Linked DNA regions of Homo sapiens: all the other regions are linked to region 1. The links come from fine-mapping of genetic effects on gene expression. A gene starts in region 1. Each other region holds a variant in brackets. All regions are shown on one strand. Distances are from middle to middle. Region 1 holds the start of TOP1MT (DNA topoisomerase I mitochondrial). Region 2 holds the start of LOC124902037 (a long non-coding RNA gene). Region 3 overlaps ZFP41 (ZFP41 zinc finger protein). Region 4 has its middle 6.2 kb from the start of MAFA.

Evidence for each region. PIP is the estimated chance that this variant, and not a neighbour inherited with it, causes the effect.
Region 2: its variant is the best candidate, but not a certain one, in a credible set for the expression of TOP1MT in whole blood (TOPMed, PIP 0.88).
Region 3: its variant is the best candidate, but not a certain one, in a credible set for the expression of TOP1MT in subcutaneous fat (GTEx, PIP 0.51).
Region 4: its variant is the best candidate, but not a certain one, in a credible set for the expression of TOP1MT in whole blood (INTERVAL, PIP 0.82).

The regions. Positions count from the first base shown.
Region 1 is chr8:143,331,431-143,336,732 of GRCh38, forward strand. TOP1MT (DNA topoisomerase I mitochondrial) reads right to left here and starts at 3,450. Exons shown (of 14, transcript NM_052963.3): 1 at 3,310-3,450. The coding sequence starts at 3,431. RefSeq lists enhancers at 465-998, 2,674-3,358, 2,898-2,947 and a silencer at 3,148-3,607.
Region 2 is chr8:143,298,519-143,306,146 of GRCh38, forward strand. It overlaps ZNF696 (zinc finger protein 696), which reads left to right. Exons shown (of 3, transcript NM_030895.3): 3 at 1-1,434. LOC124902037 (a long non-coding RNA gene) reads right to left here and starts at 4,561. Exons shown (of 3, transcript XR_007061139.1): 1 at 4,232-4,561; 2 at 3,492-3,636; 3 at 2,867-3,315. The variant T/C (reference allele first, on the strand shown) is at 1,952.
Region 3 is chr8:143,258,129-143,265,756 of GRCh38, forward strand. ZFP41 (ZFP41 zinc finger protein) reads left to right here. Exons shown (of 3, transcript NM_173832.6): 3 at 1,647-4,577. Among named protein-coding and RNA genes, the nearest start is that of GLI4, 5.5 kb to the right of the region's middle. The variant A/G (reference allele first, on the strand shown) is at 4,089.
Region 4 is chr8:143,421,216-143,427,805 of GRCh38, forward strand. No RefSeq gene overlaps it. Among named protein-coding and RNA genes, the nearest start is that of MAFA, 6.2 kb to the right of the region's middle. RefSeq lists enhancers at 1,278-1,865, 5,273-5,362. The variant C/T (reference allele first, on the strand shown) is at 3,571.

The sequences.
Region 1 (5,302 bases):
TAGCAGGTGAGCAGTGTGGCCTCCACCTCACGGGGGAGGAAAACAAGGCCTGCAGAGGGAGGCAACCCTACCTGACCTCAGACCCCATGCCCGTGTACCCGCCCATGCCCCCCACCTGCAGAGGCCCGTGTGCTGCTGAGTCACGGATCCCACCAAGCCCAGCTAAGCGGGAAAGGGCAAGCCCAGCTAAGTGGGAAAGGCAACGTGCCTCTCCCAGGCTCTAGGGCCTCTCCCCAGATGGGTCCCTTCAGAGCCGGTCTAGAATCTTCGGGAACCTCTCCATGGGACCATTTCATTTGCTAAATAAAGGACCTGGCTGCTTATGAGAGAGCCCTGCCTCCGAGGAGCTGGGTGGAAGGGGGTCCAGCAGTGCAGCCAGTGGAGAGGCACCACAGCAGGGCGCAGGACCGCCGCCCACAGAGGATCGGGCAGGGTGGAAGGGTGGAAGAGGCAGGGCGGGGTGGAGGAGGCGGGGCAGGGAGGGGAGGCCCTGAAGCCAGAAGCCTCAGGGGTTTTCAGGGAAGGGCTCCTTTTGTAAGGCACTAACACAGTGAGGCTCCACAGGGCTCCCTGCCAAGGTCCCCCTCCCCAGGGCGCCCCCTTCTGGCAAGCCCAGCTCTGGAGATTGGGGGGGTGTTGGAGGGGGTGGGGGGACACAGCCAGCGTGGCGGCTACAGCCCATCCTAACTCTCCAGGCCAGTCATCATCTATCCATTGAGGCAAGCCCAAGCCTGCCCTGAACCAGCACTGCGCTGGGTCCTGCGGATGCAGATCACCAAAACCCATACGAAGGGCTCAACTGAACCTAGATTCTGAGATGGGCCTGGGAGAAGAGGAGCGAGATGGGGCGTGGCTGGCAGGCAGTGGGCAGGCTCGGTCAGCAGGGCTGCGGGAAGAGCAAGTCCAGCACCCAGGATGGCCAGTGCAAAGGCCTCAGTGGGAGAGGCTTTGGCGAGAGGGTGGGAGCACCATCAGGATGGGGGAGAGTGAGATGGGCACACCTTCTGAGCCTCCCCCAGACGCACAAGGACAGAAGGTTCCAGATCACACCCCCACCTGCCAGAGCCAGGAGACCTGCACGTGACCCCAGCCAGGTAGTGCTGTTGGGGGCCTGGTGGGCCTGGTCGGCTGGGATGAGTGTCCTCAGAGCAACAGGAAGTCTCTGAAGGGTCTGAGAGGGGAAAGCATGTGCAACAGACATTTCTGAAAGGGCCTTTCTGGCTGTTTCTGCAGAGGAGGGAATGGGCAAGGTTAGAAGACGTAGAGACGGAGCTGATAAAGTAGGGAGAAGTTAACGGGCTCAAGAACCTTCCAGGGTGGAGCCGGGCGTGGTGGCTCACGCCTGTGATCCCAGCACTTTGGGAGGCTGAGGCAGGCTCAGGAGCTCAAGGCCAGCCTGGCCAACATGGCGAAAGTACAAAAAAACTAGCTGGCAGATGCTGCAGGCAGCTGGAGTCTGGAGGGAGACTCGGGGAGAGGGGGGTTCTGCTGACTCTGCAGAGCTTTTCCACGTCAGGTGAGACCAGCCTCACCTTTCTTACAGGTTTTAGGAGTTCAAGAGAGCCCACCAGCCCTGATACAGCATGTCTAGGGTGGGGCTGGTAGGAGGCTGCACCACTAAGTGCCCTGAAGGATGCAAACCTAGACAACGCCTTCTTAGAGAATAAGGGAAGATGGATCATGTCGGGTGTGAGAAAATGGGAAACCACGTGTATCTCGGAACTAACTGATAGGAGCCAGGCGCGGTGACTCACGCCTGTAATACCAGCACTTTGGGAGGCCGAGGCGGGCGGATCACTTGAGGCCAGGAGTTCGAGACCCGCCTGGCCAACATGGCAAAACCCCCGTCTCTACTAAAAATACAAAAATTAGCTAGGCGTGGTGGCGGGTGCCTGTAATCCCAGCTACTCAAGGAGGCTGAAGCAGGAGAATCACTTGAACCCAGGAGGCAGAGGTTGCAGTGAGTTGAAATTGCACCACTGCACTCCAGCCTGGGTGACAGGGCAAGATTTTGTCTCAAATAATAATAATAAAAATAAAAATAAAGAACTGACAGTGACCCTGACTGCCAAGTCCTTCACAAAGCCTCTAGGGTAGTCACATCACCAGTCTCATTTCACAGATGAAGACACTGAGGTGAAACAACCTGCCGGCCAGCGGCCAGGCAGGGCTGCACCACTGGGTGTGCGCTCAAGCCCAACTGAGGGCTGCACATTGTAGTGACATTCTTTCACCCCTGCAGAGACCAGGGCACCAAGCACCACCATCAGACACAAGCTGGCTTTCAAAGCCAGAGACCTTGCTCCAAACCCACCTGTCCACCTGGGCGACTGCAGCTCAGCAGCACTTTTTGGAAAGCACCTACCTGCCTGTGCACCCTCGGAGAGATGTGCCTCAATGCAGGGCCCACAGCCAGCCCCAGCTCCAAGCGCAGGCCAGAACTCCCTCCTCCCAAGACACCCTGCCCCATCTGGGGCTCTCTTTGGGTCCCAAGCTCCTGCAGGCAGACAGGACATTTCTGCAGCATGGCCTTAGGCAGCTGTGCAGGCCCTCAGCTGTGAATGGGTATGCTGATAGCGCACCACCAGGTCACAGAGACATGCCACGCTGGAAGCACTAAGTGAATGATGATAAACCGCGAGACCTGGCGGGAACTCCTGCAGGATCTCCCACGCACCAGTGAGGCTGTCAACTCTCCAGCTCTTCGGAAACTCCAGCATTTCATGCGCAGAGACCCATCCCCATGCGGCTACCCCAGGCCCAGTATGCGCCGGCAGGGCTTCTCACATGTCCTCCAGGAAAGCGCCTGGGACCACCAACGGCCACCAGGGCCACTGGATCCATGCGGCTTGTGCCTGGTGATGTAGATATGACAGTGAGCGCCCGCCGCCATGCAGAATCGGTCCTGGAGACAACCCGGGAACCGACTCCAGGAAAGAGCGGGTCTCAGAAGACCATGCACAGCAACATAAGCTTTTTATAAAGTACCTAACCAAACCCTACAGTGTTGAGGCCCAGGCACAGCTACACAAATGATGAAACCACAAGCGGAAAAAAAGAGGGGAGATTTCCCCAAATAGGGTTGGTGGGGTGGTGCCTGGGGAAGCAAGGGCGACGTCATGGGGGGGCCTGTACACCCCGGGCAGGAGGCGGGCCGGTCACACCGCGGCACGCATGCTCTCCTGGCCCGACTTTTGGGAAAACCGGAAGCAGGGCAAGGCCGTCCCACGAGGCCTGCCACTCCCCTTTCTGGACCTACCCAAGCCCGGTGCTCAGGGCCCTCGCCGCCTGCTCACTGGGACACCTTACCTGGCTCCACTGCCCTTCTGCGTCCTGCGCGAGCCCGGGACACCCCGGGAGGCCGGGCGGCGGGGGACCTCCCCGAGCAGCGTCAGAGCCGCCCGGAGCCGCAGCAGCCGCACCACGCGCATCTGCCAGCCTCCGGGAAAGAGCGACAAGCTGGGCCCCGCCCCAGCGGCCAGCCCCGCCCCGCCCCCAGCGGCCAGCCCCGCCCCCGAGCGCGGCCTCCGCCCCCAGCGGCGCTCATCCCAAGGCTGGGCGGTCTAAGCCTGCACGGGGCTGCGGCAGCAGGACCACTGACTGTCCTGCCGGCCTCCCCCTGGTTTCCCTGCCTTCGTGGTCCAGCGCCCCTTCACGCTGGGCGGGGACCCAGATCCAAACCCAGTCCCACTGACCTCTGCAGCACAGGGCTGGCTGTCAGGATGCCCCACAGGTCACACGACCAGGCCAGTGAACTCCTGCCCAGGGCTTGCACACAGCTCTCTCCCAGAGCCTCTGAGGGCAGGGGCACCTAGCAGGTCCTTCCTAAGTACACGCTCTGCTGCTCTGGAGAAGGGACCACACAGGCTCAGATGGCCCCCTACCTCATCCCCTACAAACAGCAGCACTTCCAGGACGCAGAAACCGGCAGAAGCACCTGCTGTCCAGCCCACAGCAGCCCCTCAGAGGTGGTGCCTCTGGACAAAGGTCACAGGAAGTCCTGCGAAATCATCCCTGCCAACCAGCCTCTCACTCCCAAGGAGACCAGAGACCAGGCACAGCTGGAGCCTCCTTCCTGCGCTCAGTCCCCAGCGTGACTGCTGACCCTGACCAGGGTTTAACCCCAGTGTCTTCACTGGGGAGCATGGCCAAGGGGCAAAACCTCTAGATCAGCACTTGGCGGTAGGCCCTGAGCCACAACAGGCCACACCGCTCACCTCTGGCAGCACCGCAGCCTTGGTCTTCCCCGGTAAAACCCTGACACCAGGACCGTGGGAAGCAGATGAATTCACATGCATTCCGCACTTTCACTGTGACCGTTGGGGGGAATGCAGTGGACACAGGCAGGAAAGGAGTCCGGGCTGCCACCGCACGCCCTCAGCGACCCTCCCCTGCCACCAACTGACTCAGTGTCCATGTCATCTAGCTGCTGGAAGCCATGGGCAGAGGCCGAGGGCTGCAATTGCTCGCTCTTAGGGCCCAGGCAGACCTGGTAGGTGTCCCATCATTTCAGAATGAGCAGCTCAGCAGCTGAAGGTACACACACACCAGGACACAGCAGCTGACTCTCCAGGTGGGCCACCTCCTCCCAGGGGCTGCGGAACAGTGATGCATATTTTTTCAGGTAACCCTTTCTACAAACCAGAAGAGGGCCTTGGCCCAGGCCCACCATTCCTTCAACGGAATCCTGAGGTCAATGTGTTTTCCAGTTCAGGTTTCTAAGGGTTTTTGATTTTTTGTTTTTTACTTTTTGTAGAGATGGGGTCTCCCTATGTTGCCCCGGCTGGTCTCGAACTCCTGGGCTCAAGTACCTTGGCCTCCCAAAGTGCTGGGATTTCAGGTGTGAGCCGATGCCCAGTTGGTTCCTCAGGTTTTGTAAGAGGGAGTGTGGCAGGACAAAAACCCTAAGATTTCTCAATAGATGCAGAAAAAGCAGCAGACAAATCCAGCACCATTTCATGATAAACAGAATGGAAAACCCACTCAAGAACAGAATAGAAAGAAACTTAACCTGAAAAGCAGCATCTACAAAACCCCGCAGCTAACCTCATATGCCAGAAGAAAGACTGGACGCTCCTGCTGAAATGAAGAATAAGACGAGGATGTCCACTCTCACCACTGCCTCTCAACATGGTACCAGAGGCTCTAACTGAGCAAACAGGCAAGCAGATGAAATAAGACACCCAGATCAGAAAGAAAGAAGTAAATTATGTCTATTTGCAGGTGGCATAATCTTGTATATAGAAAATCCCAAAGAATCCACAAAAATTGGCCGAGCACCGTAGCTCATGCCTGTAATCCA
Region 2 (7,628 bases), 32 kb before region 1:
TAAGTCAGGCATTCAGCTTGCAAAGATCCCCAAGCACACAAGGAGAGTCAGCTGACTGAGGGCCAACAGAAACAGCAGGCAGCCGCTGTCAGCCACAAAGAAACGCAGATCCTGAAACTGTCATCATACAGGTGAGAGGATAGTTATGTGTGAGGTGTTCAAAGAAGTCGCGCAGTCAGTGATGAGAAAGCTGTAGGGTACATACTGTCACGCATGAATAGGCAGGACTCCTTAAAGAACTTTTGGAAATGAAAAACAGGCCAGGTGCAGTGGTTCATGCCTATAATCCCAACACTTTGGGAGGCCTAAGGGGGAGGATCACTTGAGCCTAGGAGTTCAAGACCAGCCTAGGCAACATAGGGCTGGGCACGGTGGCTCACGCCTGTAATTCCAGCACTTTGGGAGGCTGAGGCAGTGGATCACCTGAGGTCAGGAGTTTGAGACCACCCTGGCCAACATGGCAAAACCCCATTTCTACTAAAAATACAAAATTAGCTGGGCATGGTGGCCCACACCTGTAATCCCAGCTACTCGGGCAGCTGAGGCAGGAGAATCCCTTGAACCTGGGAGGCAGAAGATGCAGTGAGCCGAGATCACGCCATTGCACTCCAGCCTGGGCAAAAAGAGCAAAACTCCATCTTAAAAAAATAAATAAATAAAGGAAAATGAGCCGAGTGATGGTCTTAGATATAAGATGGAATGGCAAGCAAATAAAATTATAAATATGAATACATATGTATATATAAAAGAATAGTGTCAACTAAAATACTAGACAACAATAGCATGTAAATTAGAAGGGACAGAAATGTTCTAAGACCCTCCGGTTGTTGGGAAGAGGGTGTAAGATAGTGTTTAATTTGACTTTGATAAGTTAAATGTGCATAGTGTAATTTAATGTTAATTACTAAAAGAGTGTAACCAGTCTATACATCTCTAATCCAATAAAAAGAATAAAACACTGTGATTTAAAATGTAGTCCCAGCTGCTTGGGAGACTGAGGCAGGAGGATCTCGGCTTGGATCCTCAGACCAGGAGTTTGAGGCAGCAGTGAGCTACGATTGTGCCGCTGCACTCCAGACTGGACAACACAGTGAGAGCCCATAAAATAAATAAATGAACTGAACACAAACTTCTGTCAATTAAAAAATAAGAACGAAATCAGGCTGGGCCTGAGCGCTGTGGCTCACACCTGTAATCCCAGCACTTTGGAGGCCAAGGTGGGTGGATCGCTTAAGCCCAGGAGTTCGAAACCAGCCTGGGCAACATAGGGAGAACCTGTCTCTACAAAAAATACAGTAAGTAAGCCTATAGTTCCAGCCACCCAGGAGGCTGAGGTGGGAGGATCACCTGAGCCTGGGAGCTCGAGACTGCAGTGAGCTGTAGTCATACCACTACACTCCAGCCTGGGCAAAAGAGTGAGACCCTCTCTCAAAAAAGAAAAAAAAATCAGAAACAAACTGGGCAAATTAAGATGGTGGAAACAAAACTAAATATGTCCCTAACGACAGTAAGCTGTATAGAATTGCCGGTTGACAGGTAAAGGTTAGGACTGGGTGCAGTGGCTCATGCCTGTAATCCCAGCACTTTGGGAGGCCGTGGTGGGTGGATCACCTGAGGTCAGGGGTTTGAGACCAGCCTGGCCAACATGGTGAAACCCCGTCTCTACTAAAAATACAAAAATCAGCCAGTTGTGGTGGTGCATGCCTGTAATCTCAGCTACTCGGGAGGCTGAGACAGGAGAATGGTTTGAACCTGGGAGGCGGAGGTTGCAGTGAGCCAAGATTGCGCCACTGCTCTCCAGCCTGTGTGACAGAGTGAGACTGTCATACACACAAACACACATAAAGATTAGGAGGAAAATCTGTGACCCAGAGTCACACACATGAAGACAGACAGGAGGGAGGCGTGAGTCAACCAGGGGAAGAAAGGCAAGCTCAGGTGCCATATGAAG[T/C]CCAGAACATTGTTTTAAAAAGGAAACTCAAAAATAATGATGGGCCAGGCATGGTCGCTCACCCCTGTAATCCCAACACTTCGGGAGGCAGAGACGGGCGGATCACTTGAAGTCAGGAGTTCGAGACCAGCCTGGCCAACATGACAAAACTCCATCTCTATTAATAATACAAAAATTAGCCAAGTGTGGTGGTCTGCGCCTGTAATCCCAGCTACTTGGGAGGTTGAGGCACGAGAATCGCTTGAACCTGGCAGGCAGATGCTGCAGTGAGCCGAGATTGCGCCACCGTACTCCAGCCTGGACTTCACTCAACCTGGGAGGCAGAGGTTGCAGTGAGCCAAGATCGCACCGCCAACTCCAGCCTGGGCGTTACTCAACCTGAGAGGCGGAGGCTGCACTGAGCCAAGATCACACCGCTGACTCCCAGCCTGGGTGTCACTCAGGCTCAGTGAGACTCCACCTCGAAAAAAATAAAAAAATAATAAAAATGTCTTAGAGATGGAAATGTAATGGGCAAAATTAAATTAGCAAGAAGGTGGAAAGTGGAGAAAATCTGTTTGAAAGAATGAAAAGACAAGAAGGTGGGTGACAGGATAGAAAGATTAAGACTAACAGGAATTCCAAGGAGGGGAAAACAAAAACAGAAAATGGTGGGAATGAAGTTATTAGAGAAATAATTTTCCCCCAGAACCGAGAAACATGAATCTCCAGAGTAAAAGCACCTACCGATATCTCGCACAAAGATGGAAGGAACGACCTACATCCAGGCATGACGTGAAACATCAGACAGTCCAGGACATAGAGACGATCTGAAAGCGCAGATCACACACACAGGCTGAGGAATAAATCCCTTCCCAAGGGCAGACTGGAAGTTAGAAAATGACAGAACAATGCTTCGAAAATTACAAGTGAAAATAATTTCCAACCTAGAACTTTATACCTACCCAAGTGGTCAGTCAAGTGTGACAGTATGACAACATTTTCAGATATGCAAACTCTTACTTTTAAAAATTCATTTTCAAAATACATGTTTTCAGGAGCCTACTAAAGGAGGAGCTCCAAATCAAGGGAGCAAACCAAGAAAGAGGAAGAAGGGGCTGGCCACTGTGCTGTAATCCCAGCACTTTGGGAGGCTGAGGCAGGTGGATCATGAGGTCAGGAGTTCGAGACCAGCCTGTCCAATATGGTGAAACCCCGCCTCTACTAAAAAATACAAAAATTAGCTGGGTGTGATGGCGCGTGTCTGTAGTCCCCACTACTCAGGAGGCTGAGGCAGGAGAATCGCTGGAACCCGGGAGGCGGAGGTTGCGGTGAGCCAAGATCACACCACTGCACTCCAGCCTGGTGACAAAGCAAGACTCCGTCTTAAAAAAAAAAAAAAAAGGAAGAAGTGGAATCTTGTAAATGGGGTTTCATAGAAAAAAAGTGGTGAGGGGCATCCCCACGTGACAACGGAGCCCCAGGGCTGGGCAGAGAGAGCCGCGTGTCCTGGGACCGTCCGATATTTCCCACAGTCCACTCTGGAGCCACAGTGACTTACTTTCCTTCCACAAGTGAAATATGCTCGCCACCCCCCACTCAAGCCACCCAGAGGTCTCTTCCTGCTGCTGTCTCAGCTCAGAGGCCGTCAGCTCATGATTCTCCTCTGGTCCGGATGTGTGTGAGATGCCTCTTGAGGCTATAAACTAAAGAAAAAATTACCTGCCTCGACCCCAGCACAGGATTTTGAGACAGGCCCAGGATAAGCACAATAACTCTCTCGTTTGAAAAAGAGAGCGGTGGGGGCTCATTCACTGCAGACCCCAGTCTGTAGTACTCTGTTGACTCAGTCAACAGCATGTTGCCAAGGGACCTCATTAAGGGGGCAGAGTCTGTGTCTTTTTTAGGGCCTCATTTTCCCTGGAAGTGACATTATTATCCTTTTTTTTTCCCTCAGATTTTGGCTCTGCCCTTGGTCTCTCTCCTCTGTGTTTTTAGATGTCCGATAGCCTGTATTTGAGGCTAAGCAGCTTTCTTAGCTGCTTACTGCCTGTAGAAGGAGGGAACCCAAAGGCTTCATTTTCAGCTGTTTCCATCTCTGTTCATTTAAACTGACACAATGCCCTTAAAAATCTGGTGGGTTTCGGGCCGGGCGCGGTGGCTCACGCCTGTATCCCAGCACTCTGTGAGGCCAAGGTGGGTGGCTCACGAGGTCAAGAGATTGAGACCATCCTGGCCAACATGGTGAAACCCCGTCCCTGATAAAAATGACAAAATTTAGCTGGGTGTGGTGGTACGCACCTGTAGTCCCCGCTACTCAGGAGGCTGAGGCAGGAGAATCACTTGAACCCAGGAGGCAGAGGTTGCAGTGAGCCGAGATCGCGCCACTGCCCTCTAGCCTGGCAGAAGAGCGAGACTCCATCTCAAAAAAACAAACAAACAAAATCTTGTGGGTTTCTTAGATTATATTCTCCACTAGACAAAAAATATACTTAAACATTTGTCAGTGTTTTCTCTGTTTCATATGATGTGTTAGCATGTTGTGGGAAAACATCCTTTAGGGTCTTAGAAACACTTTTGTCTAGCTGAGAGGATTTGTACTATATACTATCTTCCAGCATATATATATATATATATATATATATATATATATATATATATATATTTTTTTTTTTTTTTTTTTTTTTTTTTTTTTTTTTTTAGAGACAGGCTCTTGCTCTGTTACTCAGGCTAGAGTGCAGTGGTGCAATCAGTTCACAGCAGCCTTGAACTCCTGGCCTCCCACCTCGGCCTCCCAAAGGGCGGGGATTACAGGTGTGAGCCACCACACCCAGCCCCAACATGGTAAACTTTTCTGGGGCCTTAACAATGGATATGGCCACAACCTTGATTTTATCTTTATCCTGAGGCCACTTACTACTTGAATTCTTTGCAGGCAGTGGTGATACACCCTACAGTCCCAACTGATCAGGATGCTGAGGCAGGAGGATCCCTTGAGCAATATAGGGAGATCTTGTCTCTAAAAAATAAAAGTAAATTTAAAACAACTTTTGAAAGAAAATGCTTTGCTGACTGCAGAGACAAGATGTGAGATGGTTTTGTTTCCCAAGCCAGTTCAGGCCCCGGCTCTGTGTCCTCCAGATTCCGCCTGCAGACTAGACGATCCCTCCTTTCACACATTTCATGCTCGCAGGCCTCACCAGTGCCACGAGGAGCGTTCCGCTGACATTTTTGCCACTCTGTCTGGAGCTCTGCTTAGCTGGGTCCATTTTCTAATTTCCAAGTTACTGAAGGCAATTTTTTTTTTTTTTTTTTTTTTGAGACAGAGCCTGGTTCTGTTTCTCAGGCTGGAGTGCAGTGGTGCGATCTCGGCTTACTGCAGCCTCTGCCTCCCGGGTTCAATTGATTCTCCTGTCTCAGCCTCCTGAGCAGCTGGGATTACAGGTGCCCGCCACCACGCCCGGCTAATTTTTGTAGTTTTAGTAGAGACAGGGTTTTGCCATGTTGGCCAGGCTGGTCTTGAACTCTTGACCTCAGGTGATCCACCCACCTTGGCCTCCCAAAGTGCTGGGATTAGAGGCACAGGCCACAGCACCCGCCCAAAGGCAATTTTTTTCACCCAAATTTTTCACTACTACCTAATCATGGTTTCTTCTGCTAATAGTCTCCTCCCCGTGTTTCTGTTCTCCAGCCCCAGACTGCACTCGCAGTCAGTGCACTGCGTCTTAGGTGTTGCTTCTGCCAACAGCTGTCTTAGACGAGGTGGCTCTGCCAACACCTGTCTTAGACGAGGTGGCTCTGCCGGCACCTGTCTTAGACGAGGTTGCTGTGTCAAAATTCCACAGACCGACTGGCTTCACAGCAGACATTTCTTTCTCCCAGCTCTGCAGGCTGGGAGTCCAGCCTCCAGGTGCCACAGACCCAGTTCCTGTTGAGGGACCACCCCCAGCTTACGGACAGCAGCCTCTTGCTCATGTGACCGTCCCGTGTGTGCTCCTGGAGAGGAGGCTCCGGTGTCTCTTCCCATGAGGGCACTCATCTCATCGTGAGGGTCCCCCAGGATCTTCTCTAAACCTGCTCCCCTCCCAAAGGCCCCACCTCCAACACTGTCTTGCTGGGGGTGAGGACTTTAACATGTGAACTGGAGGTGAGGGACAAGTATCCAGTCCACAGCAACCCCAACTCTGGGACCCAGTTTCTCTACTGGCACTTGCTGAGTAACCACCCACCCAGACGCCTGGTGGCTCACAGCTGCAGGGACACGGTGCTTCTGTGGCCGCAGGCGTGAGGACCCGGGTCCTGGCCTCCCTGGGGCCTGTTCCTCGGCTGTGCCCGGTTACTCAGGGCTGCTCTGGTCCTGCCTCCCCAAGGAGAGCCCTTGTGAGGTCACAGGTGCAGAAGGAAGCCCGTCCGATGCAGACGGATGTTCCAGCCAGGCGGAGAGGAGAAAATCAGTACCTAAAGCATCTGACAGAAAAGGAAAAAAAAATCCAAAATAAACCATTTAGAATAGACTCAGAGGACATAACACACCTGGGACTGACTTACATGATATTTAGGAAAGATGTGTAAGATTTCTACATGTAAACTGAGAGATGGGATGTTATTATTACAAATTTTCCTAAGCCAGGGTCACCCATGCTGGAGGGCCGTGGTACAATCACAGCTCACTGCAGCCTCAACCTCCCGGGCTCATCCTCCAACCTCAGCCCCACGGGTAGCTTGAGACTACAGGCGCGCACCACCATGCCCAGCTAATTTTGGGGGTTTTTGTTTGCTTGTTTTGGGAGAGACAGGGTCTCATTATGTTGCCCAGGCTGTTGAGATGGAACATTACTCACAAACATGTAAAAACTCAAACGATGGCGGGTCTGCCCATTCATGGATGGAACAGGGGGTGTCAACATGTAAAAACTCAAACAACGGTGGGTGCCTGTTCGTGGATGGAGCAGGGGGTGTCAACATGTAAAAACTCAAACAACGGCGGGCGTGCCTGTTCGTGGATGGAACAGGGGGTGTCGGGAAGGCGTCAGGGCTCCCGGTTGCTGTCAGTCGCCCGTGAGACCCGAGCAGCAGTCGCTCTGTTCTTGTGATCATGGCTGAGTGGGATCCAGTGTGAGTCTCCACCCGGCCTGTTACCCAGTTCCAGCTGCAGGGCCTGGGCGCCCTTTTCCGCCTGGGCAGCAGTGAATGAAGTTGCTCTAAGTCCCTTGCTGCTCTTGGTGCACTTAAGAGAGGGCTCGCAGGCCACAGGATAACAGGAGAGGCTGAGTGCGCGGCATCCTCCATCATGGAAACGCATCTCGCACCAGCACACGCAGCTGGCTTTTCCACTACTTTTGCCCGTCGATGGCACCACCCAGCTTTTCTCTGGGTGGGACAGGTATCTGTCCACCTGGGGTTTCTACTCTGCATGTTTTATCTTTTTTTTTTTTTTTTTCCTGAGATGGAGTTTCACTCGTCGCCCAGGCTGGAGGATAATGCCATAATCTCAGCTCACTGCAACCTCCGCCTCCCAGGTTCAAGTGATTCTCTTGCCTCAGCCTCCTGAGCAGCTGGGACTACAGGTGCCTGCCACCATGCCTGGCTAATTTTTGTATTTTGAGTAAAGACAGGGATTCACCATGTTGGCCAGGCTGGTCTTGAACTCCTGACCTCAGATGATCCGCTCGCCTCGGCCTCCCAAAGTGCTGGAATT
Region 3 (7,628 bases), 72 kb before region 1:
CAGCCTGGGCAACAGAGTGAGATTTCATTTCTAATAAAAATTAAAAATTAGGTATGGTGGCGTGCGCCTGTGGTCCCATATACTCGGGAGGCTAAGGTAGGAGGATCAGTTGAGCCCAGGAGGTTGACACTTCAGTGAACTGGGATTGTATCACTGCATTCTGTTCTGCAGACGTGAGCAGGAGTGATGGACGCCTCTTCCAGGCCTGGCCTCCTGAAATCTTCCCTGTAATCATCTGCTGTCCTCCCTTCCTGTGACTGAGAGAGAAGGACTCAGAGATGGCAGAGCCACACACCAAGAGAAGGAGCCATGTCCTGGAGTCACCCTCGGGAGAGCCTCAAGACCCTGTCATGGTGTGAGCAAGAAGGGGAGGCCTCCTGAGCCAGACGCTGACATGCGGAGGTTCTTCGTTATCCCAGCCACCGTTACTTACCCTGACCACTGTAGCAACAAATGACAAATGTTCAGAATATGTGCAGCATTCATAGGAACCAGGATTTTTAAAGACAAATATCTAAATAGAAAAATGGCCAAAACAGGAGTTCAAGACCAGCCTGAACAACGCAGCGAGACCCCATCTCTAGAAAAAAGAAAAATGGGCAAAAGTCGCAGAAGAAAAAAACATCCATGGCTCGTAAATACCTGAAAACATGCTCAATCTCTTTAAAAATCAGAGAACACAAGTTAAAACAACAGATCCAATTCTGTGCCCCACAGCGTGGTAAAGATGGCCAGGTCGGATTCGGATCCTTGCATGGGACGGGCGGGGGTCCTCATCTCCTGCTGCGGCACCAGGCAGCAGCACAGTCTGGAGAGCAGCCTGGCGTTTTCTGGCAAAGGCGAAGATGTGCGTTCCTGCTGACCCAGGAGCCGCCTGTTGACTTCCCCTTGAGAAACGTGTGTGCACGCAGCCAGAGACACAACAACGTTCATGGCATGCACTGTCAGGAAAGCCGGAAAGAACCCAAATGCCTGTCGGTAGCGAAGCGGGTAAATCATGGTCTGTTGGTCAAGGGAAGCTGTTGGCACAGTGGCCACGCAGCTAGCCAGGACCCACGTCAACCCCTACGTGACAGACACACACTGAGCAGAGAATGTAAGGCACAGAAGACACACGGCGTGATTTTAACCACCGCAAAGTTCGAAACCAAGCAAAACTACACAGTGTGGTGGTTGGGGACACATGTGGTCCAACTGCAGAGAAAGGCAAAGGCATGGTTCACACTCAGGAGAGACGGGCCGGCACAGGGCACGGGCCCCTGGGTGGTATCTCGCGCTTAAACCGGATGGAGGGTGAGTGAGCATTTGCTCTAGCGCGGTTAAAGGATCATGTCATGTACACTCAGCTTACACATCTGACACCCTCCCACCTTCCTTAACGTTTTTAGAAAACAGGGAGCACTTCCTCATGAACCTGGTGCCATCCAGCCCTGGGGTGCACGGGTTAACGCCCACTTCCACGCCCCCCACTGATCTTGAGGCCCCCCCGCCCCCAACCCTGGCCTCCGTTGCCCACAGGTGCCTGTTTCCACTCAACCCAAATTTAAGCCATCTTCTTGCTTTCAGAGTGTGGTCTTTACCAACAGAGGAACCGGGTAATCACCGCACTTCTCATGTATTCAGAAGATATTTCTCATCCTTTTCAGGCTGGTAGAGCAGATCACCCCCAAAGCAAGAAGTTCCAGATGAAATATGCATAAGAAGCAGCCTCAAAACTAACAAAAAAGATTCGCACATTCCTCAGTTAGAGGAGGAGCAGAGATGAAGAAAAGGAGAAGAAAAGCGCTGGAAAGAGAAGAAAAGGAACCTCCTTCTGTGCAGCAGGCTCCTGGCCCAGGGAGTGCGGTGTGCGGCAGAGTGCGTGCAGGGAAGCAGCCTCTGAAATCGTGCAGGGAAGCACCCTGTGAAATCGTGCAGGGAAGCACCCTGTGAAATCGTGCAGGGAAGCACCCTGTGAAGTCGTGCAGGGAAGCACCCTCTGAAATCGTGCAGGGAAGCACCCTCTGAAATCGTGCAGGGAAGCACCCTGTGAAGTCGTGCAGGGAAGCACCTTCTGAAATCGTGCAGGGAAGCACCCTCTGAAATCGTGCAGGGAAGCACCCTCTGAAATGCCTAGAAATAGCTGCCGGGCTTTCACTTGGTTCCCAAATTTCTTCAAAGGTCAAAACCATCACAGTGGGCAACTTTACACCCCAGTGTTCACTGTCCTCAGGCCACTGCAGAGCCATCCTAGTGGGGCAGTGGGCGCGGGGCGGGGGCTCCTGACTCCGGTGAGGTCACCCTGGAGGGGAGTCCCAGGAATCAGCCTGATGTTCAGAATGCCTTCCTGGCATCTCAGAAGTGTACTGGGGGAGACGTGAGGACCTTTCAGCCAAGTGTCAGCGTTCTTATTGCAGGAGAACATTAAAGCCACAACCCAGAAACTTCTCAGGAGCATGGCGCACCCACACCAGCCCCGGGCTCCGCCTGGACAGCACCTCCTGGGCCGCCCTGACCAGCAGACACCATCCTTCCAGCCTCTCTTGGCCACCCGGACCAGCGGGCACCACCCTCCCAGCCTCACGCGGCCACCCTGACCAGCAGGCACCATCCTTCCAGCCTTGCTCAGTCACCCTGACCCAGAGGGCTGCCCTGACCAGCGGGCACCATCCTCCCAGCCCCACTCAGCTGCCCTGACCAGCGGGCACCATCCTCCCAGCCTCACTCGGCCAGCCGAGCTCTGTAGGCCTCAGAGTGCAGAGAACCTCAAATGTTGTGACTTTGCTCTGCTGCAGGGACCTGCCATGGAGTGTCCCTTGTGCGAGCATTTTGAGAGCTATGCCAGCATCCATCCCTGCAGGTCCCATCCCTGAGCCATTTCTCAGGAGAGCAGGAAGGGAGCAGGGAGAGGGGTGCTCCCAGCCAGCCCCGGAACCAGAGGTCTGGGGACGCAGCCGACCAGCCCTCCTTGTCTGGGCCTCTGTTTCCTCTTCGACACAGGGAAGCAGGGAGGGGCCGATCAGCGACTTAGGCCTGTTGGCTGTGGTGGGGTCCACCTGCGTTTCTGGGGAGCCCACGGACCCTGGGGTGTACCTGGGTTTCATTCCCAGTGACCTCTCCTATTGGTCCCCATTTGGGGCGCTGAGATGTGATCGTTTCTTTCCTGAGAATGAGCTGAGGTAAAAACATGCTGGGGAGGAAGATGGGCCCTGGGGGCAGCGAGCTGCGCCTCTGCACCGGGAGAAAGGCCGTGTCCCCAGAGCTGAGGCGGTGGTGGGCAGGGCTCCTGAGAAGCCGGGGCAGGGCAGGGTGTCTCTGAGGTCAATGAGGAACAGCTGAGGTCCAGGGACGCAGGAAGGATGGGGTGAACTCCGGGATGGGGCCGGCAGGGAGCCTCACGCTTACAGAGCCTGGTGTTGGCACTCTCCTGGCTTCCTCCGCAAACCTAGCCACGTGGTCAGGGAGCCCGGGCCTAGCAGACGGCCCCCACCTTGACAGAATCCCCAGGGTCGTGCGTGGCGGTGGGGGCGACTTCACAGCCGAGACCGGGCCTAACGCTGCTGTCTCGCAGTCACCCCTGCAGGCCGCTCAGGGCAGGGCTCTGGCCTGACGGGGGTTCCTGGACACGCCTCTGAGCCGGCAGCCCCTACCCGCACCCGTGCACCTTCCACGCCCGTCTCCAGCAGCCCCTGCCCCCACCCGCACCCCTGCACCTGCCACGCCTGTCTCCGGCAGCCCCTGCCCGCACCCGCACCCCTGCACCTGCCACGCCCGTCTCCGGCAGCACCTGCCACGCCCGTCTCCGGCAGCACCTGCCACGCCCGTCTCCGGCAGCACCTGCCACGCCCGTCTCCGGCAGCCCCTGCCCGCACCCGCACCCCTGCACCTGCCACGCCCGTCTCCGGCAGCCCCTGCCTGCACCCGCACCCCTCACGGCTGTCTCCGGCAGCCCCTGCCCGCGCCCGCACCTCTGCACCTCCCACGCCCCTCTCCGGCAGCCCCTGCCCACACCCGCACCCCTGCACCTCCCACGCCCGTCTTGCCCTGGGGCCCAGGTGCAGGTCTGTGAGGAGGGCAGCCCCGTGCTCCCGTGGCCACCGCTCAGCCAA[A/G]TGGATTCAGCGAGGGTTTTTAGTGTTTGTGCCTGTGTCCCCGTGTGCCTGTTTCCTGGTGAGGCTGGATGCCTGGCATGTCTGAACACTCACATTCCCCAGGCATGCATGTGCAGCCGCCGCCGCCACCCATGTACTGTGGCGCTGACCCCTCCTGTAACAGCTGTGGTCTTGGCCTCTCGTGTTGGTGGCAGATGTCCCATTTCCCAGTTACTTTCTGTTGTCCAAAAGTTTAACTGTCCTGCCAGCCAAAGCTGCTGAGCATTACTCTGATAGACCATCAGTCCTTGGTAAGTGTCCTGTGCATCTGGGATAAGCATCCGTTTGTTTTCAGCTGCGCTTTCTGTGACTTGCTCTGCGTGAGTCCTCGGTCCACGTGGGCCGTTGCGCTGGTTCCCAGCCTGCCCGACACACTCACTGCGACGCCTCCCTTGCCTACTGCTTGCTGGCTTCTGTGTTCTCTGCAGTAAACATTGATTTCTGACTCGAGTGCTGTCTTCATTGAGCTCTCTGCACTCTGGGGATGCAGTCAGCGACCCCACGAAGGCTACCGGCTTCCTCCCAGGGAACAGTGCAGGTGCTGCTTCCCAGGACCACAGGACCCTGGCTGGTCGCTGCCTGTGATGGGTCTCCACAAGACCACTCCCCATTAGCCAGACTCACAGGAGACTGACACATAAATGAGAAAGTTGTTCACTAACTCACAATGGGAGCAACCCTTTGCAGTGCGGAAATGCTCTCAGCCTTTCTGGCCCCGGATACCTGGGAAGCTAAGGGTTCATTAGGTGGCCTAGTGCCTGCACTCAGGATGCCCCAGAGGAGGCCCCGGGGTTCCTGAACGCCTTCTTCAGGCCCTGTCTTCAGCCCTTCTCCAGGCCCTCTGAGTTCCAAACAGCACTCACTTTTGTCTGGTCCTCTGTTCCCCGGCTCGCACCTCCTTCGTCAGGGCAGTTGCTCTCAACCAGGGGTACTTCTGCCCCTGGGGCCCACTCGGCAATGTCCGGGACCGTGTTGGCGGTCACAGCTGGGCGGGGGCACCACCGGAATCTGGTGTGCAGAGGCGGGGGTCCTGCCCAGATGCCAGAGGTGCTGCAGGTGAGAGATACAGATTTAGACCCTGTGACGACAAAGAAAAGGACGGGAAAGGTGGCTCTCAAGGCCCCAGGGAACCGCCCAGAGACGCCTGGGGTTCCAGAAGCTGGAAAGGCATGGAGCGGTGCGGGAACAAGCCTCTGCGGTGGCTGGAGATGTGGGGATGGAGACTGGTCATGCCTTCACACACTTAACCAGAACCCTCCCAGCTCTCCCTCCCCTGCAACCAAGCCAGCAAGGCGACACGGTGGCTGGCGCTGGCGAGAGGCAAGTGTGCTTGACTGCCTTTCTCCACTCTTGAGGACAACACCCAGAGTGGCCCCGTCTTTGCCCCACCAGCCCAGGCCTAAAGCTTCCTCATCATCCGCATCCCGGCCTGGGACTTAGGCGGACTTCTGCCAGCTGTGTCACGTGCAGGGGACTGCAGCCACTGACCCCCTCTCCCTTCTGTCCTGCTCTTCTCTACCCCACAGCCCCAGGCAGATCTTCAGTGCATGTCAGCTCTCCTCCCTCCCTCCCTGCAGACCCCTGTGCCCCGCAGTGCCCTGAGAATGACGTCTGAGCCCCCAGTGGAGGTGTCAAGGCTGTTCGGTCTGTCCCCATCCCGTTCTGTCCTCCCCTTGCTCACCACACTCCCCTGCCTGGTCTTCCAAACTCGAACCCCAGGCAACTCCTTCAGGCATCAGACCTCTGCCCCTGCGCCCCTCCTGCCTCTCTGTGATGGGCTGGCCCTTCCCTTCTGCTGCCTCCCCTCCCTCCTTCCTGCTCCAACCCCTATCTCTCTCTGATGCTGCCCCTTAGAGAAGCCTTCTTGGACCTTAAGCCTGGCCACTCCTCTAAGCCCCTCATCTCCAGGTGTGGTCTAGGAAGTGCTCTCAGCCTCTCTACTCCAGTGGCTCGGGGTCTCTGACCAGCCCTCCTGCCAGGGAAGCTTTGAAGGTTCCCACAGGGACCCCTAGAGACAAGGGCACTGCCCGTCCAGATGGCACCCTCACCCCAACCCCAGCAGCACTGGCTGGAGCAGGCCATGCCTGTGTGGGTATCTGAACAGGCACTGGATTCCCCGATCTCAACAAAAGAAGCCCATGGAGGCCTTTTCTAATCCACAGTCCAAGAGGACAAATCAAGACAACAGGCTGGGGGGGCTGGCTGTGGGCCGACTCCCACGTCTTAGGACCAGGGGCTCTGGGGCTGTTTGGGCTGGAACCCCTCCTCCCAGCATAACAAACACTAGCTCATTATTTACAGTGAATACCCAACAAAACCCTGCTCGAGGTGAGGAGCGGGGACCTGCTGCTCCAACAGACCAGACTGGCTGCTGGCTCCGAGCTCATTAAATCAGCAACCTTTGCACTCCCTCCAAAGCCCTGCCCGTCACCTTCACACCTCCCTGGTGGGGGAAGGGGATTCTTCCACTCTGATTACACCCGTTCCCATCTCCCTTCACTCCTGTGAGCTGGCCAGGCTGAGGATTTGTCCAAAGGGCCTGGGGAGTGAGACGCTCCACAGCTTCTCATGGGTCAGCCGACATGGACGGTAGCTTGGGTGACTCAGCTTCCCGTGATGCGCTGGATGCACAGGGAGCTGGTGACAACAGCCTGTGTGTGTGACAGAACAGCCTGTGCGTGTGACAGGACGTCAAGAACTACATACAAAGACACAGCTGCCCCCAAAAATGAGTCTGCACAGCCTGGTGCAATGCAGCTGCAGCCTGTCATCGAGTCAATTGCATTGTCGTCCGCCGCTCTCCTGATGTAGTTCTGTGTTTGTCCATTTTGCACTGCTATAAAGGAATACCTGAGACTGGGTAAGTTGGTGAGCGCCTGTAGTCCCAGCTACTCAGGACGGTGAGGCAGGAGAATAGCATGAATCCGGGAGGCGGAGCTTGCAGTGAGCCAAGATCGCGCCACTGCACTCCAGCCTGGGCCACAGAGCGAGACTCCGTCTCAAAAAAAAAAAAAAGAAAAGAAAAAAGAGGAGCTGGGCGCAGTGGCTCACGCCTGTAATCCCAGCACTTTGGGAAGCTGAGGCGGGTGGATCACCTGAGGTCAGGAGTTCAAGACCAGCCTGGCCAACATGGCAAAACCCCGTCTCTACTAAAAATACAAAATTATCCGGGCATGGTGGCGCATGCCTGTGATCCCAGCTACTTGGGAGGCTGAGGCAGGAGAATCACTTAAACCTGGGAGGCGGAGATTGCAGTGAGCCGAGATCGCACCAATTGCACTCCAGCCTGGGCAACAAGAGCGGCAACTCCATCTCAAAAGTAAATAAAGAACAAAAGGGGTTTGCTTGGCTCACAGTTCAGATCAGCGTTCAGAGGGTGCTGCTGTCCCTGGTCATACTGTACAAGAAGAGGCTTCTGGGGAGGGCTCAGGAAGCTTTTACTCACAGCAGAAGGCAAAGTGGGAGCCAGGGCATCCGTCACTTGGTAAGAGCCAGAGCAAG
Region 4 (6,590 bases), 90 kb after region 1:
TTCATCTTCCCGTCTCTCTTCCCATACCTGAGCCTCGTGCCGCCCGGGATTGCGGCGCCCGCGCCACCACGCTGGGGTAATGGTCCCAGCACCGCTGCCCTGCGTCCTGCCGCGCCCCAGCCCGCGCGTCTCACACACCGCGACTGCGTGTCTACAGGTGCCGCCTCTTGACGCCTCTGCTGCACCGCCAGTGCCCCGCTCGGCAAAGCACAGCCCCTCCCCAGCACTGCAGCAAATGGGCAGGAGACCCCCGCCCGGCCGGGGGAGCAGGGGCAACGGCAGGGCCCCAGTAGAGAGGGTGGAGCTGGAGCCGAGGCCGGGCCAGGCGCCTGCGGGGCCTAACGCTTCTGAGACAGGCGAGCCGTGCTCCGTGCTCCGTGCTCCGGGACGAAGGGGGCTGTGGGGTCGGCAGAGGGCTTCCCGTGAGGAGGAGCACACCAGGAGTGCTGAGGCCGGGGGTGGGAGGCGGGCAGATCCCTCAGGAGGGTGGGCTGGAGGGCCGGGACAGCCATGGGCGGCTTCTGTGCGGAGGGGCAGCCTTGGGGTTGAAGAGAGGAGACCAGAGGCTGCAGGGAGAAGCTGGGGATGGGTGGGGTGGGCCCAGCCAGGGCCCCTGTGTTTGAAACTCCCTTGTCGCAGAGGAGCCGTGGGCTACGCCCCTCCCCCAGGGCATCAGCTCCCCTGGGGCATCTGTACCAAGAGCTGGGCAGAGGCGGCGGCTGGAGAGGGGCCACCCAGGGCATGTGGCTTCCCGGAGGACATGGCTTGTCCCTGAGACCCACCCCTCTGGGGGAGGTGACCAGACACCTGGGTCCCAGCCAGGAGACGGGAGCAAGGGTGCTGCAGGAGAAGGGACTCCGGGACCCTCCTTCCTAGAGAAGCCAGAGTCCCCTAGAGTCCCGCGGGGCCCCGCCAGCAGCCTGGGACTCTTCTGTGCCCAGCACCCTGCCTGCACGCTCACTGCTGCTCCCAGGCTGCTCCGGGGAGGCGATCAAGGCCCATGGGGCTGGCGCCTGGCATGTTCCAGATACCTCCCTGTGTCAGCCTCTGAGGACTGGGTGGGAGGGAGGCAAAGGGGCCATCCCCTGCGAGCTAGACCACGCTGAGTGGGTGCCGGGAGGTGCAGTGGAGTCGGGGAGGCCCCAGGGCGGAGCCCGCCACATGGGAGGGAGGGGCTGGGCCACAGACGCAAGTCAGGGGCCAAGGTGGCTCTGTCTGGGAAGGCGGTGGCCTGAATGTGGAGAGGAATTATCCTCCAGGCTGGAACTGATCCCAGCTGCCCTCAGGACACCTAACTCGGGTGCCAGGGGTCAAGGGCACTGGAGTCCCAGAGGCCGGCATGGAAGAGGTGGCAAGGCTCAGGGGAATGCCAGGGTTGAAAGGGGCAGCAAGGGCTGCGGCTGAGGGGCTTCAGGCCTGGTGGGCTGCTGTTGGGGGGCACCCCACCTTGCTGCTCTCCACAGCCAGGTTGGGGTGCCTGGGGGGGCGGGCCGGACCTGAAGGCCACAGGCCTCCTCCTGCGCCTACCCCTCCTGCAACCCCCACAGCCTCCCCCGCCGACCCCTTCATGCCCCCCCGCCCCCCTGCCCGGCGCTCCTCCCCGGCCGCGGGCTAATTGGCTGTGACAGCTGGAGCCCTGGGCAGCTGAGCGGTGTCACTGCAAATTAGGCAGGCGCTGAGCCCGCCAGCCGCAAATTCCTCTGTCACTGCTCCCCATGCGGACTGCCGACTGTGTGTGGGGGTCGAGGGTGTGGGCTCCAAGCCACTCCCACCTTCCTGCCACCTCCTGATTCGGGGTACACTCCCTTCCCCCATCCCCCACCTCCTCCGCCTCCCAGGTGAGGAAGCGGTTTCCCCTCCTCCTGGGCCAGCCTCCCGCCTCAGACCCTCTCCCAGGCCCTGCCTCCTCCCCCACAACTTCCGAGTCCTCTGAGCACCGGTCCCACTTCCCGGGCCCTGGCTGGCCCTGCCCCGCCAGTCTCCCCTGCCACCCCAGACTCCCTAATTCAGGGTCCCTCGGCCGCCACCCTCTCCCTGGGAGCCCGGGGATCCAAATGCCTCCTCTCAGGGACCCTGGAGGGTACTCCTGTCTGAGCTGCCTGCCCCCACCTCGAGACCCCCTAGGAGCCAGGCTCAGCCAAGACCCCGCAGGCCTCCACCCTCCCCGGCTCAGCCCACAGCCTCGGGCTCTCCCTGCTGACCCACATGCTGCACCCCCAAAGTCCACCCCGTGCTGCCCCTCCCCGTGCACCCTCAGGGATTACACCATCAAGGTCGAACACAGAACCTGCATCCACCTCACGCCCCGACTTTCCACGCGCCTCCCAGCTCCTATCAGGAAAGGTCTCCCCCAGGTCCGTCCCATCCACGCTCTCCGGGACCATCTGGGCCCTCGCCCTGGTCTCAGCCTTTGCTGCCCCCGACAACCTGCCAGGACCCTCAGCCTTAGGGAGGTGGGCCCCTGTGAGGGTGGGGCCAGGCTGGGCTTGAATCTGGGACAGCGGGGGCACTCAGGCCCTGCCCCGCACCCTTGCTGGGCCTCCCCAGCCCTCGGCTGGACTCCGTGGCCAGGAACTGCTGAGCAGGCACCCAGGCCCAGGGACGGCAGAGGTATGGCTGCTTCAGCCATGAGGGCAGCGGGGAGGAGTCGGGGCTGGGCAAGGGAAAGCATGGACCCCACAGGGCTGGTGGCCCTTTCCTGTCCTGCAAATGTCAGCCCATCACCTCTGTGTCTGACTCAGAGCCCCGGAGTATCTGCTTTCCAGAGTGGCTGGCAGGTGGGGAGACCAAGGCCCCCTGGGGAGAAGGCCAGGCTCTTCCTGACACCCGCCCTGTTCCACGTCCCCAGGCCCTGGGCCAGGGATGGCTTTGCCCTTCCTCCAGGCCCAAGGTAGGGGTGTTGGGTCCCCAGGCTCCCAACCATACCCAGTGGCAGGTCACAGCACTGGCCCTGGGCCAGGACCCTTGGTGACGCTGTGACCTGCACAGGCCTATCTGTCGGACAGGCCCCTTCAGGGCCCTCCAGGGCTGAGCCAAGTCCCTGCTGAGCAATTGGAGCCTTCAGCCCCCCACGATTGGCTGGGCTGGTTAGTGATGGTTCCAACCAGAGGGTGGCTGGGTCTTGCACCCCACATCCATCCCTGGAAGAGGGCGTGACCCTAGGGAGCCTTCAGCACCTGGCAGTGGAGGATGAGGCTTCCATCCTGGAGGGCATCTGGGCCCCTCACGGTGGCTCCAAGGACCAGGGCTGGGAGAGAGGTGGCAAGGAGAGGCCAAGGCAGCCAGGGCAGGGCAGGGCCAGGACCCCTCCTCCCGGACAGGGTGGGCTGGGCTGAACCGAGCAGACAGTGGCTGAGGACCGCACTTCACTGGAGAGGCCCATGTCAGAGCCCACTGTGGCCAGGCGGGACTCAGCATGGAGGACCGGCCCAGACAAAACCATGGGGTTGGTTTGCGTATAGGGCCGGTGGGTCCACATGCATGTGTCTGGGTGTAACTCCACCCTCATGTGTGCCAGCCAGGTGCACGCGTGTGTGTACGCAGGGCCACAAGTGTGTCTGCTGTTGTGTC[C/T]CCGGGTGGGTAGAGTCTGCTCCCACATTCTGGGCTGTGTGTATGTGTGTGTGCCCGTGCATGTGTGCACGTGCCACAGCGTACCCACCCTTGTGCTGGGGCTGGGGCAGAGGACACTTCCGCTTTGTCCTGGCCCTCATCTCAGAGCCGGCTCTATAGGAGGCTGGGGGGGCCCTGCCGACAGCCACCACTGTGACGTACTGGGGGGCAGTGGGGGGAGGAAACAGGGCCACACTTGGCCCAGCGCCTGGGAATGGCAGAGGAAGGAGGGAAGGCCCTGGCCTTCTCCTGTGAGCACCCCCAGCCCAAGCCCTGTGCGTGGCTGACGGGGGCTTAAGGCAGGAGACCAGTGACCATCCAGGTGGGCTGTCGGGCCCAGGCGAGCGTGTGTGTGGGGGGTACAGATGGGCTGTCGGGCACGGGCGAGTGTGCGCGTGGGGGGGTCCAGGTGGGCTGTCGGGCACAGACGTGTGTGTGCGTGGGGTCCAGGTGGGCTGCGGGCACAGACGTGTGTGTGCGTGGGGTCCAGGTGGGCTGTCGGGCACAGGCGAGTGTGGGGGGAGTGCAGCCAGTGCTCCTGCTCGTGTGTCCAGTGTGTGCCATGGGTGTCCACCCAGGCCCAGGGCCTTAACCCCGGCCCCTTCAGCCTCTCCCTGCTGTCTGGGAAGACACAGCTCCCATTGGTGGGAGATGGGACACAACTCCTGGGGCCACATATCTGAGCTGCCCCAGGAACACTAGGTCCTCACGCTGCACCCTGTTCAAGGCAGCCTCAGGCCCCAGCCTCCCCTCTCCCAGGGCTCACGCGGGGGCCGAGTGTCACATGCAGGACACTCCAGTTGGTGTCTCCCTCCGGAGCTCTTGGGCCAGGGCTGTCACCTGGGTCCCTGCTGTGGGCCCCCAGTGGGCAGTAGGGTGGGTAGGGTGGTTGCCAGCGTGTGTGGGAGACAAGCTCTGCCCTCTGGGCCCAGGCAGCCTCCTCCAGGAAGGCAGAGGATGGCACCTTCGAAGTGCCAGGAGTCCCTGCCTGCCTGCTCTGGTTCTGGGTGACGGTGGCGGGGGCAGGGGGCACCCAGGCCAGGCACCATCACTGACCTCTGGGGACATCCAGGTGGGGGTGGGGGTGAGGTCAGCTGCTCTTCCAGGATGGGTCAGGGGCTAGGGTCCCAGGAGCTGAGCGGCGGATGCTGTGGTCGCCCCTTCCAGGGGCCCTCCAGCTCCCCTCAGCCCCAAGCACCTTGGTGCTGCCTTGCACACAAGGGACACACATGCTCACGACTGCCGTTGGCACTCCAGCTCTGCTGCCCTCCAGGGCTCCAGGCCCAGTGAGGAGGAGCTGAGGGATCTAATTCTCCGATTCCTTGCTGGCCACACAACCTCCCTCAGCCAGGAACCCCAGAGCTGCCCACCCTCCCCCGCTGCCGGCTCCAGCCAGGTCTGGCTGCAGCAGCCCCTCCTGAAGGGTCACACTGGTCCCAGGGACTCCCTCGGGGCAAACTGAGGCCTCCAGCCAGCCCTGCCAGCTGTACAGAGTCTGGGTCAGGTGTGTGCCGCTGGTCCAGGCCTGTGCTGTGTGGGTGGGCACGGGTGCAACTGAAGCCAAAGGTGCTTTCCACACATGGCCATCTTCCCGCGGGGGCTCACGGAGCCCCCAAAATGGTTTTCAATAAAGCTCTGTCTCGGAACACAGGAATAAGAAGTCCCCTGCCCGCAGGGGTCCCCGCGTCCCGGTGCTCACCTGCCTGCTCCACCTTGTGTGTGGCGGAAAGCAGGGGGACAGACGAAAGAGAGAAAGAGAAAGGGGAGAGAAAACAGAAAACAGGAAAGTGAACTGACTCCAGCAGCAGCAGCTGCTAAGGTCCCACAGCTCGGGCCCGGCCATGCTGCGGAGAAAGCTGGATCCGGTGGCAGCCCCGGCACGTGCCGCAGTGGGGTTCCTCTGAGTCCCAAACCCAGCAAGCCTCCAGCAGCGCCCGCAGGCCCCGTGCACCAGGAAGCCCAGTTCTGGCCCCTGAGTGCAGGGCTCCCAGACGCCTGGGGTGGGGGTAGGGAGCAGGGAGGGTGACACAGCTCCCTGCCCGCCGCTCCCACCCCAAAAAGGCCGCCTCTGATCCAGGCTGCCAGAAGTCGCTGGGTCCTGTACTTTCTCGGCCAGGGAAAGGCTCTGTGCAAAGGGCTCCTGGGGGCGGCGATGGTGAAAACTAAGGTGTCCCATGTCCTCTGCTCTTTACAACTTCGGACTATGAAAAACGAGCCAGCAGATTCCCGTCCAAGAATGTGCCCAAGGCTCCCCGCCCCTCCTTGGGGAGAGATGGCCTGTGTAAGCGAAGGCCCGGGCCGGGCGGCTGAGCCACCCGTGGCTGCCTGGAACCCGCCTGTCCCTGCCGGCGTAGTCTTTTCAACTCCATCTTCCGCCCCACATTTCTGTAATTCCCACCAGCATTCTCCTCCACAGAGATGCCTTCACGGCCAGCTCCCCTGCTGGGATTCTGCTTGAACTCCCGCAGAGACCCAAAAGCAAAGGGGGAGGCGGCAGGGACTGACGGAGGACTCGCCTTCCTCTCTTCCTCCAGGTCTCTCCGCTTGAAACGATAAAACAAACTCAGGAGACTCACTCACAGAGGATTCCGTCCCGTCCCCAGAAAGAACCTCCGCTTACCCCCGATGGAAAAGCAGCACAGCCCCCTCCCAAGAAAGGCGAGTTTGGAAGCCCTTGCAGGCCAGAAGCCCTCTCTCCAAATTTGCAAACCACGGACCCTCGCCTGCCTCTCTTCCGGCAGTGAAGGGAGGGAACCATCAACGACGTGTCCTGCAGCCGCCCTGGGCCCTGTGAACTGAGATTTCTGGGGTACTGCCTCCTCCCCTGTGCTCCCAGTCCATGCCCAGCCAGCCGTTCAGAGGAGCAAGGGTAGGCTGCGCCTTCAGGTGGGAGACGGGCAGACTCCGAGGGCTGGGGACAGTTCTGGCCACCAGGATGCAGCGGTGTGTCCCACCAAGGACACCTCCTGCCCTGCACCCCC